Homo sapiens: one gene and its partners. The protein of the gene in region 2 interacts with the protein of the main gene of each other region in a pairwise test. Each region holds a gene or a part of one and is shown on either strand. Other genes may lie near its edges.

The links.
Region 1: the proteins of CCSER1 (region 2) and LMO3 interact in binary tests that used the Homo sapiens proteins (3 or more experiments, as listed by UniProt).
Region 3: the proteins of CCSER1 (region 2) and FBXL17 interact in a two-hybrid assay, tested with the Homo sapiens proteins (one large-scale study listed by BioGRID).
Region 4: the proteins of CCSER1 (region 2) and NDEL1 interact in binary tests that used the Homo sapiens proteins (3 or more experiments, as listed by UniProt).

What each region holds. Positions count from the first base shown.
Region 1 is NC_000012.12:16,546,815-16,551,017, reverse strand, and holds the end of LMO3 (LIM domain only protein 3), read left to right. Parts: 3' UTR 1-2,646; downstream 2,647-4,203.
Region 2 is NC_000004.12:91,592,774-91,597,330, reverse strand, and holds part of CCSER1 (serine-rich coiled-coil domain-containing protein 1), read right to left. Parts: intron 1-4,557.
Region 3 is NC_000005.10:108,374,542-108,379,098, forward strand, and holds part of FBXL17 (F-box/LRR-repeat protein 17), read right to left. Parts: intron 1-4,557. UniProt on the Homo sapiens protein: Substrate-recognition component of the SCF(FBXL17) E3 ubiquitin ligase complex, a key component of a quality control pathway required to ensure functional dimerization of BTB domain-containing proteins (dimerization quality control, DQC).
Region 4 is NC_000017.11:8,455,725-8,460,281, reverse strand, and holds part of NDEL1 (nuclear distribution protein nudE-like 1), read right to left. Parts: intron 274-4,557; coding exon 122-273; intron 1-121. UniProt on the Homo sapiens protein: Required for organization of the cellular microtubule array and microtubule anchoring at the centrosome. May regulate microtubule organization at least in part by targeting the microtubule severing protein KATNA1 to the centrosome.

The DNA of each region.
Region 1 (4,203 bases), on a different chromosome or scaffold from region 2:
AAAGTAATGTACATATGGCTGGATTTTTTTGCTTGCTATTCGTTTTTGTGTCACTTGGCATGAGATGTTTATTTTGGACTATTGTATATAATGTATTGTAATATTTGAAGCACAAATGTAATACAGTTTTATTGTGTTACCATTTGTGTTCCATTTGCTTCTTTGTATTGTTGCATTTAGTACAATCAGTGTTTAAACTTACTGTATATTTATGCTTTCTGTATTTACCAGCTATTTTAAATGAGCTGTAACTTTCTAGTAAAGAATTGAAAAGCAAATCTCACTAATGATACACAGATAGATAAAGCAAGTCTATCAACATTAAAAATACTAAAAAATAAAGACACACACAGAGCATTTTAGTGACATCCACTACTTATTGCCGCTATGAGTTAGAGTCTATCAGTGTTCTTGTTATAACCCCCTATTTTCAGGGGGTTAAAAATCAGCTTTAAAAAAATACATAAAAATTTCATCTTAAAGCACTTTCATTTTATACCAACGTGAAAAGTGCCATTTTTAGAATAACTTTAAAGCTTAACAGGTTTCCTTTTAATATCCTTTTTTTGTGTGCTCTTTACTTACACAATGGCTTTGTTTTGCTTTTTCAGCCACACCCCTTATGTGAACTAGTGCCTTTGGGTATCACGTAAAATTTTTTCCAAAGGGTTACTTTAAAAATCTGTTACCACAATTATGAGATGATTTTTAAGTGATAAATTAAACTTCTTCTTGTATAAATTCTGCCCAGATCTCTCCACAAGAGCTGAGGGTTTCATAACTTTATGGCTTAATAAATGTATGACACTGAAAAGATTTGAGTGTGAATCTACTGAAATCACTATAATGCACATTGAAGCTATGATGGTATTTGAGTAGTGAGGTTACTTTTGATCGGAGCAACATAATGCTCATAGAATCTTCTAGAAGAAGAGAAACAAAGGGATTGATAAAATGCTGAGAACTAGTGATTATATATTTTTCTGTATTTACCTGACATTTATTTTAATGTTCAAAAAGTAAACACTTTAAGTTTGATGTGTTTTACTCTCTCATTGTTTTAAGTAATTGCCAACTCAGAATACATCATTCTTAGGCTGAAATTTGTCTTTCCATTTTTTAAGGTGAAATAGTACTACCTTACGTGATAGCATACAAAGAAGAAAGCTCTAGAAAGAGAAATTATGGAGAATGATTATTTAAATTACAATTAAGGAAATGAGAATATGATCCCCTCTTCCGAGTTGCCCACAAACTTGCTTCTTTGCTTTTGCTCCCTGTAATAGAACTACTTTTCAACAAATCTAATTTTGCACGGCACCGTTAACCATATTTTCACTACAGCAAACTTAGTGCTATGGGTTTTCTTTTTCTTTGTTTTTTTCTTGATCACTTGTATAGGAAACAATATTTTCCAGTGTTATTTGCATATATATTTTGTCCTTCCAATATATGCATTACAGATGAAAATTAAATGTTATACCTGAATTCTTGGGTTGGGGCCAAAATATTAAGCTGAAAATAATGCTGGTGTGGATTTGTTTTAAAACAAAGCTTTATTATGAACATGCATGTGAATCTGGATATTGCCTCTTATTTTTAAGAAAATGGTTCTGTGAAAAGTGAATGATATGTATTTTTCCAAATGCTTCATGGTTAGGAGTCTTCAAGTTCCATGTTCCCCAGATTTGAGATATACTAAAGAAAGAAATTCAAAAGTAGCTATTTGGGGCCCACAAAAATAACTATTATTTTAGCCTTAGAGCCTTACACTTGTTTCATGAAGAGAAAGGACTTGCATAACCAAAATAAACAAAGCAAGACAAATTAAAAATATGTGGGGGAGAGATCAGTGAAAAGTGGTTTTCTTAATGCAGCCCTGCTGGTCCCCATTAACAATTGCTTGAAATTCACATGGATGTAAAATTATAATTGTCAGGATCTTATTCAGATGATCTTTTAAGGTTTAACTGGTTTTGCTTTTGTTTATCTATATGTCAAAATACTTGTAAATTGGGAACAAACTTCTCTCAGCTTCTTGAAGTTGTTCAACTATCCTTGCCACTGGAAGACCAAACAAGGTTTTCACTGCTTTTTCTTTTACATAATATGCTGAGAATTATTTCTTATGCTTTTTACTACAAACAAAATTACTCACCTGGATTAAAGATTAAGGCCTTAATCTGTTTAGATTATCTTTAATCTCCATGAAATCGTGAAATAAGACAAGAATAGTGTTTCAGCTGTAGGCCATTTTACAGCTAATTGCCCATAAATTGTAGCATTTATTGACCTGAAGTACTAAGCTAATTGTCTTGACTACTCAAAGCCCCTGAATTGTTGTCAACTTTCCCCTTTGTGTTGTGTAGCCCTAACGTCATTTAGCTTGTTGTCTGATGCCTCCAGTAGGACACCTCCGATGGAGCTTTGATTTCTGAGCAGCGAAAGCTCCCTTCCTAAGATGCATCTCGCATAGGCTGCCTATGATGAAGGACCGTGCACCTCCACTCCAACAGAGTGCTGAGTTTAAAAGTTGACCTGTGTTTGTAATTTCACTTTCATCTTGCTTAATAAATATCTGCTGGATTCTTTCATTCACTTTTTTACATTTGGATTTATGTTTTTAATAAAAGGGGTGTTACACTATTTGATTGCACTTAATTGGCAAAATTTAAGATGATCTCTAGAAAGCATATGTTAAGTCCATGAAAAGAAAAAAAAGGTGTGTAAGGACATTTACTTTCTAAAGCTAAGTCATAACAAGCATAGACAAAGCACCCCAAATGTTTCTCTGAATGTAATGTTTAGGATCTCTGCGCTAGGTCGTTTACCGCTATTTATTTTTATGGGGAAAATAAAACTCTCAAAAATGAAGGTAGCAATTGCTGGGTGTAATTTTGCACATTTATACAAATTTTAGGTGATCTTTCTGAAAGCAACTCTGTTGCTGTTGTCAGATTAAATTTCAAATTTTCTATTCTGTATAATGAATTAAAACAGGAAACTCAATTCTACATTTTTACAGAAGAGATGTTGCACCTTAACTGAAACAGGGCACTGAAAATTATATCTGTAGTAAAACATGCCATGCAAAAGTGTTTTCCTTTTAACTATCACTTTAGGCAAACCACTCTCTGAATCATCACTTAAACAGTTTCGTAGAAATTATGTAGGCCAAACATGTTTAGTGTTCACTTCAGTAAGTTGCAAAAACAATCTGCATGTTTATTGTAATAGGCCATTAGCACAAAATACAATTTTAGCAAAAGCCTTTTTGATCATTACTTTTTCTTAAAAACATTGTTATATTTTTTAAATGTGGTTTTAATGTAATTTAAGGTAATAGAAAGCAGAGATTTAATAGTCATTAGTTTAATTGACATTTATTGCGCACCTACTATGTGACAGGCCTCTCCCTGAGCATTCAGCCTCCTGTTGGGCAGACTTAGGGTTGGCCTAGATCAAATAACTTTAACATGTCTTTGCACTGGTTTGTGCTCATCTCCAACCTGCTAATAATGAGCACACAAAAGCGAATAGCATCTTCTACCTCTCCAGCATGTTATTGATATGAAAGCCCCAGAAAATATCTCAAGTAATCAATGTGTTCAGAGAATTATCGCACACAAATTACTCATTAACTCAATAGCACATGATAAAAAAGAACATCAATTAATTAATGAGTCACCCTCAGATTGCTATGATTACAATAGAGCTCTGTTGAAATAGCGGTTATAAATGAAGCTGCCTCTCTTTATTCGTTGTTTGCAACTGGTCCATTATTTGGCTGAAACCAGTGTCAAGTTTAACACATGCCTGTAGGTAATTGTGTGATTAGTATCATAAACGAAGATTTCAGAATGCCTAGGGTTTATAAAACCTTATGAATGGCCAGAAAAATGAAGAAAATTCATTTTTACTAGAGCTTCCTTTGAGGCCATGCTATTAGAAAAGTATTATTCAGAAAGGTATATTTTTACTTTTATAATCAAGATGTAAGACTTTCGTGTTGAACAGTACAAAGAATAGCTGCTAAAACACTTGAGTCAATTTTACAACGCTTTAGTATACACACGATTTAATTTCAGTAACTTTTCCTGAAGACTAAAATATGCATGATCATTGCCAGTTTTGCATTTTGGTACCACAAAATGACATTTTTTTGCTTTTGGCAGGCTTGGTTGGGGTGGGTTTGTGGATAAT
Region 2 (4,557 bases):
TTTGAGATAATACATAATATTTATTGGGTGTGTATTTCCAACACTCTGCTATTGCTCTCATATATTCACTCTTCACAAGAGTCTTTTGAGGTAGTTTCTTTTATTCCCGTTATACAGACTGGAAAATTGTAGCACAGAGTTTGATTTTATCCTAAGCTAGTGTAGGACAGGCCGTCTGCTTGATTATCTACCAGTTCCTTCTTCCTCGAGTATTTCCATAGGAATTTTTCAAAACTTCATCACATTTTTCTAAAATTAATTACGTGCAGAAAAACATTGTAATATGAGCTGATGCCTCAAAATGATTATTATTGAAATAAGTCTCCCTCCTTTTCTTTTCTACAAAACAAAGACCCACTAGGCGTCCTTAAACTCAGTGATTTCAGAGGGAAGGATTTTGCTACTCAGGCCTTTCCTTTTTATTGTCTTGATGTCTGTGATGTCATCTTTCCTTTTTATTGTCTTGATGTTTGTGATGTCATCTTTACTTATTTATATTTTTGTGATAAGCTACTTACAGCAGACCCCCCTCTGTGAATTCTAATATGCTGTTTTAACTTTTCCTTAGATTTGGAGTAGACATAGGTAGGTTGGTAATTTGGTGTAGAAAGGAAACATTGTAAGACTCACAAGAGATGCCTCAGACTTTTTAGGAGTAAAAGGAATAAACTATTTTGATTCCATTTTCGTCATTTGGGAACTTGTCTAGCTCACTTTCTTCTTCTTGGCTCTTTCCCAATACTCTAGGCTATGGACCTATTAGAAATGTGATCTTTTCTTTTTCCTCCATCCCTGTAAACTTATATGTTTATTTAATTGTTACCAACCAACCCCCAAATCAACCTTGTGCTCAATATCTGTGGCCAAATGTTAGACATATCATGGGTGCTGCTTATGAAATATTGTGGAAAAAATTGGGGATGAATGCAACATTAATAAGTCCATAATGATAACACCAGTGGTTACATTTCTTTTTCATTTCTATTTCAACAGATGCTGCCTAGGAAAGTAGAAATGGTAGGAGTAGACTTCATTTCCACTATTTTAATATTACCTTTGAGGGAATATTCATTGTTTTCTTTATGTGATCATTTTAATTCTCCTGGCATATTATATTAAATTGAATATACAGTTTTAAAAAGACATATTGAAAAGGATCAAATAATTCAGTCACACAGGCAGCCTCAGCACCCCTTCTCTGGTACAGTATCTGGTACTTAGAAGGCACATGTGGATCTACTATCAAAAGAAGCAAGATGGGGCTTCTTACTCTCAATTTTTAAAGGAAAATACACATTTAAATCAACCATTTATGTTTATTTAGCATAGTTTGTTTTTGACATGTTAGTTTTTTTGCCCTTGGTTTTTTTTTTTTTTTTTTTTTTTTAAGTTCTCTGTGATATTTACTATTATCTCCAAAGCTCATAGTGGACATAGGAGATTGCATTGTGCAGGGGTTAATCATATGGGTAGGGTCAGATATATATGAATTCATTTATTCTTGTGATAAATATTTATTGGCCACACTGAGGACAAGGTGCTGCATACATCATGTGAAATAGGGCTGTTCATATAAGACCCAAATGCTACCTTAAGTCAGCTTCAAGTCAGACACTTTCTAGTTTAGTGAACATGGCAAGTTACCTAAGCTTCCTAAGCTGCCAATTTCCTCATCTGAGAAATGAAGTTTTATATTTATATCCATATCTTCATAAAGGATTATTACAAATATTTAATGACCTCCTTGATTATAAAATGCCTAATTACCTGGAATGTAGTTACCTTAATCACAACAATAATCATCATCATCACAGTAACAATATAATGTAACTAACAGACCTTGAAACTACTTTGAGAGGTATTTATTTCATCTTTTAGAACCTAATCACTTGGAACACTTTTATCTCTATTTTAAAAAGAAAGTCACTTTCTCTAGAAAATTCAAGTAATTTTATATTTATTGTTGTAGTTTGGTTCCACAGAACACAGACTGTGAGACAGATGTTTGTGAAATGTATTGGGGAGTGTTCTTAGGCCAACAACTATAGAGAATGAAGAAAGCAGAGTCAGGCAGAGTGAGAAATTAAATTCTGTGCAATTACACTATCTCGACTGATCACATAGGGAGGTCTGAATTTGGGATGGTTCTTAATAGTGGTCTCCAATTCAGGCAAGTCGGTGGGAGTCTTATATCCCATCATCCAGTTATTGGACATTGGCAGGCCCTGGGAAGGGCTATAGTATTGGATGAGTAGGTTTTTTTGGTTTTGCTTTTTTTTTTTAAGCAGAGAAATTATTGGAGAGAAATTTACTTGAGAGCTATCAGTTGCCAACACTCTCAGCAACAGGAAAAATTAAGACTTCAGTCTTGAAAGTGTATTTGTTTGAGGCAGAGAAAGGGAAAAGTAGGAGGCATATCATACCATACACTACACTAATTACCCTATTGTGTCTTTAGTATATTATAGGACAATTTGAGCTAATAGAAAGAACACTGAACCTGAAGCCAAAAGACTCTAGTTGTGCTACCATTGAACTGTGTAACATGGAATGAATAAATTAATTATTCTGGGCTTCAGTTTCTAAGTCCACTCACTGAATGAAATGAATAAAATGTAAGACAATAGAATTTAGATCTTGAAGAAACTCTAACAATCATTCAGTTGCTTTCCAATTCTAAAATTCTAGGTTTATTTTATGCTACATGTTTTGGAATATGTTTAGAAGTACATAGGAAACATCCTCTTAACACAAAATATTAAAATACATTTTGGCATATGCATTTGGATCGGAAGGATGGGAATCTAAGATAGATAGATATAGATAGATCTGATTTGGGTATATATATATGTATATATATGTATATATGTGTGTATATATATGTATATATGTGTGTATATGTATATATGTATATATATGTGTATATATGTGTATATATGTATATATGTGTGTATATATATGTGTATATATATGTGTATATATATGTATATATATGTGTGTACATATATGTATATATACACATATACATATACATATATACACACATATATATATATATGGATTTGGTTGCCTTGGCCCAGAGGAAAATAATTTCCATATTATGATGTTAACCAATGTTTATTACCTCTGAAGAATTTGAGATCCCTGAAGGTAATTTTAATGCATGTGTCTAGCCACATCTTTCTCAAAATCAGAATTAAGCCTCCTGAAACTCATGTAATTATGTCAGATTCTGCGCAATTTAGTTGTCATGCAGCTAGCTTATTACCTATCCATAGAATTCCTAATGAGGATGAAAGGATGGAAAATCTAGTGATTAATCAGTCGACTGTGCACATTATAATAAGTTCATTGTTACCTTTTAATTGTCTTCCTCTCATTTCTTTACAATAGCATATAGCCTGTATTTCATCAAATGCAAGAAAATACTAATTTTAAAACATATTATTATTTAATACACCACTAAGAAATGAAAAACAAAACACCTGATGCTGATTTAAAACAAATAAACCACATTCACTTATTTCAGCCTGTGTGATCCATTAGTAAGTCACACCAGCCTCTCATTGCAATTTATTTTGTGTTCAGTTGCCTTGTTTGGCATTTGACAGACAGTCCTTTTGCATTTTTCTCAATGATTCAGTGTCATCCACACATAGGTATATTCCCTCTCTAGATTTTATAAAGCATTGGGTTTTTACTTAAGAAAAAAGCATGGGGGCTGGGCGCTGTGGCTCACGCCTGTAATCCCAGCACTTTGGGAGGCCGAGGTGGGCGGATCACGAGGTCAAGAGATCAAGACCATCCTGGCCAACATGGTGAAACCCTGTCTGTACTAAAAAAAAAAAAAAAAAAAAAAAAAAGCACGGGGTTGAAAACAAGACAGTTAAAAATATTTATTTCATTAATATTAAAATTATACCCTGTTTTTTTCCTTGGCTTTCTGTATACAAAATTATTTTTCTTATAACATCAAGTACAGTAAGCTGTTAGAAAACATTCTTTAGTAACAAATGTAGCACCAACATTGCATATAACTCAATTAAAGAAAGGCAAATATGAAGCTATGATACAATACACATTGCACGGGCAATTTAAACTGCATTACAACTGCAACCTGGTTAAAAGCATTGATTGTAAAATGAAACCTGATATTTAGGGATTCTATTATATTAAAAACTTGTCTCTTGGTGAAAAACAGAAATACAATAATCATGCCAATGTGCAAAGCCAAAATTTGTTAAGGCTGGATGATGTGATGATAGAATTTATGGGGGAGGGGAGAAATACTTCAATCACTGATTAATGAACGTTTAATAATGTTTTATTTTTTCTGAAGTTCTTTTCCTTGTTTTGTAAAAATTATTGGTAGTTGCCATGAATGTTATCAGGCAAAATTATTCTGTTATAATTGCTTGCATACATAAGAACTCTGCACATGATTATTTTCATTGACTTTAAAATATATTTTTCCTGCAAATGTTCTCCACTTAACAAAAAAAAAATATTGCTTTACAACAAGAATTGTTCTTAAAGGAATAGAGAAACTTGAAACAA
Region 3 (4,557 bases), on a different chromosome or scaffold from region 2:
CATGTGCACCTTTAATCCAAGGTACTAGAGAGGCTGAGGTGGGAGGATTGCTTGAGCCCAGAAGGCAGAAGTTGCAGTGAGCCATGATCACACCACTGCACTCCAGCCTGGGTGATACAGTGAGACTCTGTTTCAAAAAATGAAAGAAAAGAGAAGAGGAGAAGGGAGGTGAGGAAAGAGGAGGGGAAATCACTAACAGGAGGAAATCTGGAAATTTCACAAATACATGAAAATTTAACAATCAACAAGTAAGAAGAACTCATAAAGAAAACTAGAAAATAATTTGAAATTAATGAAAACAAACACATATAGCAAAATCTATGGGATACAGAAACAAGTAACTACATTTAAAAAGAAGAAAGATCTTGAATTGGCAACCTAAACTTCTACCTCAAGAAACTATAAAAAGAAAACTCAATACAAACTAAGCAGAAACAAGGGGGAAAAAATACAGCTAATACAAATGAAATATAGACTAGAAAAATAATAGATGATCAACAAAACCAAAAGTTTATTCTTTAAAATGATGAGGCCGAGCACAATGGTTGACACCTATAATCCCAGCACTTTGGGAAGCCAAAGTGGGAGGACTGCTTGAAGCCAGGAGTTTGAGACCAGCCTGGAAAACATAGCAAGACCCTGTCTCTACAAAAATTATTTAAGAAATTAACCAGGCATGCGCCAGCATGCCTGTGCACCCAGCTACTCAGGAGGCTGACAAGAGGGAAAGTCACTTGAGCCCAGGAGTTTAAGGCTGCACTTCCATTTACATAGCTATAAGCTATGATCACACCACTGCACTCAAGCCTGGGTGACAGAGACCCTGCACACACACACACACACACACACACACAAAATTGGCTAGACTAAGAATAAAGAGAGAAGACTCAAATTTTAAAATCATGTATAAAAATGGGAACATTAATATCAACCTTACAAAAAGTACACAATTATAAGAGAATACTATAATTGTATGCTACCAAATTGATGAAATAGATGACAAATTCCTAGAATATAAACTATAAAAACTGACTCAAAGGAAATAGAAAATCTGAGTAGATGTACAGCACGTAAAAAGATGGAATATGTAATAAAAAACAAAAAACTTACAACAAAGAAAAGACAAGGACCAGATGGCCTCACCAGTAATATGCTTCAATAAGAATGAACACCAATCTATCTTAAATTCTTCCAAAAATGAGAGGATGGGATACTACTTCCCAACTCATGCTATAAGGCCAGCATATCCTGATACCAAAGCCAGGCAAAGAAATCTCAAAAAACTACAGACCAATGTCCCTTATGAATACCGATGTGAAAATCTTCAATAAAATATAAGGAAACTAAATCCACAGTATAGTAGAAGGGTTATACACCATGACCAAGTAGGATTTATCCCAGGAATGCAAGGATGGTTCAACATATGAAAAAAACCCATGTAACACACCATATTAATAGAATAAAGGTAAAAAGCAAAAACAAAACACATGATCATCTCAACTGATTCAGGAAAAAGCACTGGACAAAATCTAATACCCTTTCTTGATTAAAACATTCAGAAATATAGGAATAAAAGAACACTTCCTCAACCTGAGAAAGAGCATCTACCAATAACCCCTAGTTATCATTATACTTAATGGTAAAAGTCTAAAAGTTTTTCCCCAAAATCAGAAACAAAACAAGGATTTCTGCATCATGACTTCTATGCAACATTGTACTGGAGATTCTGGCTAGGGCAATTAGACATGGAATATAAACAAAAGGCATCCAGATTGGGGAGCTGGAATTAAAACATCCTCTATTCACAGATGTCATGGTCTTATATAGAGAAAATCCCAGAGAATAAACACAAAAATTAATTTTAGAGCTAATAAGCAAATATTTTTATATACTAGCAATGAATCATCTGAAGATGAAATTAAGAAAGCACTTCCATTTATAATAGCATCAAAAAGAATAAAACTTTTTTTACAGCTCTCATTTCTTTATTGAGATTTCCAATTTGTTGGGTCAATGTCATCATATTCTCCTGTAATTATTTAAATAATGTTTCCTTTCTTTTACCATGTTTATAATAGCAGTTTGAAGTCTTTGCTAAGTCTAATATCTAGGCTCACTCACAGTCAGTTTCTATTAACTGCTTTCTTTTTCCCTCAGCATGGGTCACATTTTTCTGTCTCTTTACGTGTCTTAAAATTTGTTGTTAAAAACTGGACATTTTGGATAACATAGCCAGTGTATATTCTTTTTTTTTTTTTTTTTTTGAGACAGAGTCTCACTCTGTTGCCAGGCTGGAGTGCAGCGGTGTGATCTCGGCTCACTGCAACCTCCACCCACGGGTTCAAGCTGGGATTACAGGCGTGAGCCACCGCACCTGGCCACCAGTGTAGAATTTTATATTTCTGAGCCTTTTAACATGTCTGGCCCTAAACTGTGGAATCTGTGTCCTGGGCAGTGTGACTACATCTGTTCAGATTTTAATTCACATATATATGTTTTAGCCTGGCTTTCTAGAGAAGTCATTCTGTGTCTGAATATCTTAGTTTTCAGCTATGTACATGCCAAAGATATGCTCAAACAGCTTGAGCCTGCTCTTTAATCTGTATCTGGGTTAAGAAGGGCACATTCAAAGCTTAAAGAATTCTCATCTGCCTTGGCCCTTGCTCTCAGTTAGACAACCTCAGGTCTCCCCTACACATGTGCATAGTTTCACGTTATGCCAGGATATGTGAAGAGGTTATCCCTTTATGGTTCTCTCATTTCCAGGGTCTGCCTTTTAATTTATAGCTACTCTTCCACTCACCCCAACTGGCACTACAACCTTAAACTAGCAAATACATGGTTTTTCCTTGTTTTCCCCTACCAAGTTCAGTACATTTTATCGACAAAGGTTTTTACTCATTGCCCCAAATTGAATCAGCTGTCTGACAGCGAAGCTGCTGGTTTTCCAAACTACAATTCTTGCCAAAAGTGCTGGGACAGGAGGTCACAGTAGAAGCCCACGCGAGAATGCTGTAGACTTGCACTATTCTTACCTGAAGATCTAACAGTTTTCCTAAGAATAAATGTTTCTCAATGATTTTCTTTGCTTTTGGTTGATTTCCAGAGTTCAAATAGTTTTGGGCAATTCTGCCATTTTTATACTTGTGTGTGGAAAGGATTCACCAAACTCTTCATGCAGCCACAGGTGAAAGTACATTTCTTGCGGATATTTTTATGCTTGTCCTCCTCATTTTATAAATGAGAAAATAAAAACTTAGATGGCCTAGATCATTTTTTAAGGTTAAAGGACTATGTGGTCTTAAAGGGCTAATTTGTCAGTTAACAATCAACATGTAGGGCATGGTCACTGCAACCAAGTAGCATCTTGTTTGAAACCTGCCTGACTTTAGCTATTATCTTTTATATAAAAGTGATATGGCTGTTATAAACCACAAGTCATTGACTAAATCCAGATTTGTTTATCCAAGTGAAGAAATTTAAGATGTGGGTAATAAGCATAAAATAGGATATTTTGCCAAAGGCAAACAACTTGTTAAAGAAACTATTATATTAAAATGCATTTTTGACTGCTTTAAAGCAGGTAATATTAACCTATATAAAAGAGAAACATCCTTGTTGATATTGAGCCAAAAATTAGCCTATGATGCAACATATAGTTTAGTTTCTCTCCTCTGCCATAAAAAAAAAAAAATGGGCAAGTATGGTAGCTTTCCCAAAAAACATCCTTTAAATTCTTAAACATCCTCACATTTCTCTCCCAAATTCTACCTGCCTCGTTTTTGTTTTTTGTTTTTTTGTTTTGTTTTGTTTTGTTTTTACAGCTATAGTAACTTCCTAGCATAAAAGATGAAGCAAAAGCAATACAATTATAATAGCTATTGACTCCCTACCAGGAGAACAGGGCATAATTTCTAAGAATGTTTTCCAATAGTGATGATAGACTTGTGCCTCTCTACGCAACCCTTCTAATATTAGAAAAGAAAAATTGTCATAGCTCCATAAGTCTTCCCTTCTCCAAGTCAAACAACTCCAGTCCTTACCAGCAGAGCCAGAATCCTTTCACCACCACATGGCTCTACCGTGGCTCCAACAGCAACTCCAGTCAGAATATGGACATTCCTTAGAAATATCTCTTCGTGGTGTGGCGTATTCACCCTGAGTCTCAGCACAGACTCTAAACACCTGATGATACATTCGTTCGTAAGTATTTACTGAGCGCTACTATATGCCAGACACTGCACTTAAAGGAGGAGACAGAGCAATGAACAAGATTACGAATCCAGAGTCGCTGCACCCAAAAACTGGGGTTGGCAGACACTGAACAATCGCTAATTCAATTCATCCCAGACAGTACAGCTCACTTCGTGCTGAATACCACTAGGACCATCAGACTCAGACAGAGAATCTTTATTAGAATTTTCTAATACAAGGAATGGAAATCTACATAACATGTCCAAATACACACAATAGGGCAAGCCCATGGTAATTCCCATATGTCCTTTAGACAAAGTTTTCAACAATCCTCAGGAAAAAATATGAAAGAGAACAACGCGG
Region 4 (4,557 bases), on a different chromosome or scaffold from region 2:
ATAACAGGCTTCGGGAAGGTTTGTCAAGCTGAGTTTACCTTTTCAAGGCTTCATTATGCTCACTTACTAACCTGTCACTTTACTACTCAAAAAATTATCACTTAAAACATTCAGGACTTACCCTTTGTCGAAGAAAGATGTATGCCCTGATCGAGAGAACTTTGTGCCATTGCCATTCAGCACCCCACAGTTAACATTCCCTGAAATATAGGATTTTCGTGATGCTTGGTCCTTTGCAAAATTCCTGCAAGCTGCTAATTTGGATTCTAAAGCCTACAAAAAAGAAGGAGGAATGATATGGTTGTCAAAACAGTAGCTGCACATAAAAATTTGCATTTCAAACCATTTCTATTTCAAGCCTCAAAACTTACTCATCTCAGTTGATAATGGTGGTTAGTTCAGCCATAATCAATCAACTTTCTAATAAAAAGGGGGAATACTTATGCTCCCTTTCTAATGACCTCAGAATATTTTGTTTCCTCCTCTTAGCGTTACTGAAGGAAATACATATAATCTTCCCCTTACAACTAAAAAAAGTGTGGTACAGGAGGTGGAACAGCAGATCCCAGGTCTCTTGACCCTATCCATTGCTCGTTTCTAAGCTGTAGACTGTTAGTTGGTGTTGGGGGGCAGGGTGTGTTTTGGGAGCAAGCACTATTAAAAAACCCAAAAATATCACTTGAGAATTTTTTTTACGGCAGCCAATTCTTTCTCTAGGTTCTTCATTTTTTCTACTGCATGAGAATGGATGAGAACATTTACAACACTTTACATGAAATTAAAAGCTATTTTATTTCTGACAGCACTCTGTAAAATGTTTAACTGATACCCTTTGTCTGTAATTAAATAATTCACCCGCAAATGACACTGGCCTTTTAGCATTTACCTCTAAATTGGGCACCCTTGTTTTGCACCTGTCACCACAACACCTGGCAAGCACAGGGCTCTACCAACGCAGATGACATGGAGAGATCAGGCGTTTCTCATGTATTTCCACACACTCACACTTCACCAGCTGTCTCTTTCCCATAAACACTTTGCCCAAATCAAACCCCTCCTTCTCCGAAAAGAAAAATACTATCCATGGCAAAATATATATATACACAATTCATGTCTATTATCCATGACAGTAAAGGACTGGGAATGCACAGCTAAATTAAATCCACAGGTAACATATACTTCACTTTGAGAATCCATTTGGACCTCCTCCCCCCACATTTCAATAACAGCTATTCAGAAACAGCAACAATGGTTGGGTGCAGTGGCTCATTCCTGTAATCCCAGCACTTTAGGAGGCCAAGGCAGGTGGATCACTTGAGGCCATGAGTTCGAGACCAGCCTGGCCAAGATGGTAAAACCCTGTCTCTACTAAAGAAAAAATAAAAAAATTAGCTGGGTGTGGTGGCATGCACCTGTAATCCCAGCTACGCAGGAGGCTAAGGCACAAGAATCACTGGAACCCAGGAAGCAGAGATTGCTGTGAGCCTTGATAGCACCACTGCACTACAGCCTGGGCGACAGAGTGAGACTCTGTCTCAAAAAAAAGAAACAGCAACAAAAACAGACAAACTTTTTTCTTCTCCTTCTTTCCTATGACAAAAGTACAATGACCTACTAAAATGACAACAGAAAAAAGGAAGAGAGGTAATGACCTTGTAAAACAAACTCTGAATAAGCATAATTCAGCAATAATTCAGCAGCTTATTAAAGCTACACACACACACACACACACAGTAGAAATTGAGAGCCATTCAATTCCTATATTCAAGACACGCATTCATTCAAATCCATATTGAGTATCTATCACACGGCAGGCACAACTTATGTCTGAGACATCAGTGAGACATCCAAGCACGAGCACCAGGTCTTTTGAGGGGGGAAAGGGTGGTCTAGAGATTAAGATTTGAAAGACATCCACACCCAGGGGTGGATGAAACTATGGCTGTGATTAAGATCAGAAAATCAAGGACAGAACTCTGAGTAAAACCAATATCGAAAGGGTGAGCAGATGAAGACCCAACAAGATGACTAAGAGGAATGGAAAGAAAGTTGGGAGCAGCCATGAAACAGCATCAGAGAAGGAGAGAAAAGAGGGCATTAAAAAAAAAAAACGGTCAGTGTTGAATGCTTCAAGTAAAATTAGGACAGAACGGCATCCACAGGATTTGACAGCACTGAGATCACCAGTGAGCAGTTTTAGCGGCATAAGCAGGGGACAGAGCCCAGGCTAAAGTGTCTGGGGCGTGTGCATGCAGTCAAAATGCTAACAATAAATGGGGACACGCTTTCAAGAAGCTTTAAAGTATGTAATATGTACCACATAAGTATTACATATATTTATATGGATAACATGTAATACAGAAATATCAAAGTATACCTGTATAACACATAACATATAATGTGTAATACATAAACATTATACATAAATATTAACGCATATATAGTAAAAGGCTGAAATACAGGAGAAATAAAGATTTAAGGGTTGGAAGAAATGAGATCCAAAGCACAGATGGACAAAATTAGCCACGGACAGGAATTTGCACTTTTACCACTGGGACAAAAAGGAGGAATGGCTACAAATAGAGGTAATAATAGGAGAGTAATAACAAAAGATGAGAAAAGAAATCAAAGAAGCTTAAAACAAATGGCCTTGATTTTCTCTGTGAAGGCATGCAAGAGTGGAGAAGGGCTTCCAGTTCAAGTCAGTGGACAAAGTCGTGTAAAGAGGCATAAATGAAATATTCATAAAAGCCAACAAGGGCTGGTGGACACCAGCAGACCCAAAGTGTTGATGACTTTTGGAGGTCGTTATTTTGATAACTCTTAGAAGACGGATTGTCAGCTGAATGTGTAAACCATACAAGGATGCCAAATTAAACTTTCATGCACCACTTCTGAATAAATTAAAGTACTAAAGCAAAACAAACAAGGAACAAAGACAGACAACAACGTGGGGTGAGGAACAGGCAGAACTAACCCAAGAGTAAAATGGAGAGAAATTCGAGGGCGACAACAATGCAGCAGCCCTCGAAGCCCATCAGGGCATCCCACAAAGAGTGTGAAGAAGAAGCTAGAAGATCCGAGAGCAAAGAAAGGTGTAGGTTTCTTCTACTCAAAAGAAAGAAGGGGAAACAGAAATGCTAGGAAAAGAAAGCAGCGTACAGTCAGCTACAATACGAAATATTTAAAAACCCAGTATGATTTTGAGTAAATTACAGTTAAAGAACAAAATTCTCAAAACACATTTGTTGAATGGCACAAATATAAAGACCCATCTGAAAGTCCAGCATCTCCTCTGTGATTACACAGTAAATAACACATATATGTGCATTGTTACAAATGCTGTTTGACTACTTTTCCATTTTTAGAACCAACCAACAGAGAGCTCACACAGCTAGTAGAGGGCTCAGAAAAGGAAAGCGGAGTGGGAGTGTGGTGGGGAAGAAAGGGAGAGAACAGCGAGTTAAGATATAGTCTAATACTGGCCAGACATGGTGGCTCATGCCTGTAATCCCAGCACTTTGGCAGGCCAAGGCAGGCAGATCACCTGAAGTCAGGCGTTCAAGACCAGCATGGCCAACATGGTGAAACCCCGTCTCTACTAAAAATACAAAAATTAGCCAGGTGTGGTGGCATGTGCCTGTAATCCCAGCTACTCAGGAGGCTGATGCAGGAGAATCGCTTGAACCTGGGAGGCAGAGGTTGCAGTGAGCTGAGATCGTGCCGCTGCACTCCAGCCTTGGCAACAAAGCGAGACTCCGTTCTCAAAAAAAAAAAAAAAAAAAAAAAGATATAACCTAATACATTCAGAAACAAAAGTTCAAGAATGTTAAAGTAATTTTTTTAAAAGAACAAAAAATAAAAATAAAAATATCTTTGCTTAAAGTTGAGTAAATCAAGATAAACAGAAAAATAAGCACATGATTTCAAGTTATAAAGACAAATACTCCAACATAGAGGATTTTAAAATGGTTATCTTGGGAGTGAAGAAAGATTACTCTATGTACTGTAGGAACGACCTGTGCACTTTACTTTGTATTTTAACCTTAAAAATGCAGGTTTAATCTGATGGTTAGAAAATAACCCCTATGATGAGCTGAAACAGGCAAACATAGGACCTGTGTCTTGGCCTCCCATATCTGCTTTAGATAAAGTATAATGCAATTTCTACATTTTTTAGAAAGTGTCACACACGAAAATAAGTGAAGGGGGTAGTAGATAGTGGGAAATGGCAATGGTTGATTACTGAAAGGAGAGGTAAAACTCACTAAGGGAAATAGTAATGGGAGCTAATGCTAGAAATGCTGACTTGATAGTGGCATAAATCCACATGGTTCTGCAACTGTTTCCAGTAATTCAGACTGCAGATCTCCTTTGTGGCCAGAGAGACCATGAAGTCAACAGTGACAGAGTAAGAGATGTGTGAGATCACAGATGAATAGAAAGGAAGTGAAAGCAAGAGATGGCTGATAAAAACAAACACACTAAAAAATGGGGTAATACTCTTGATGAGGTTAAAGAGTAGGTATGGTACACAGTAACACACTGATTAAGCAG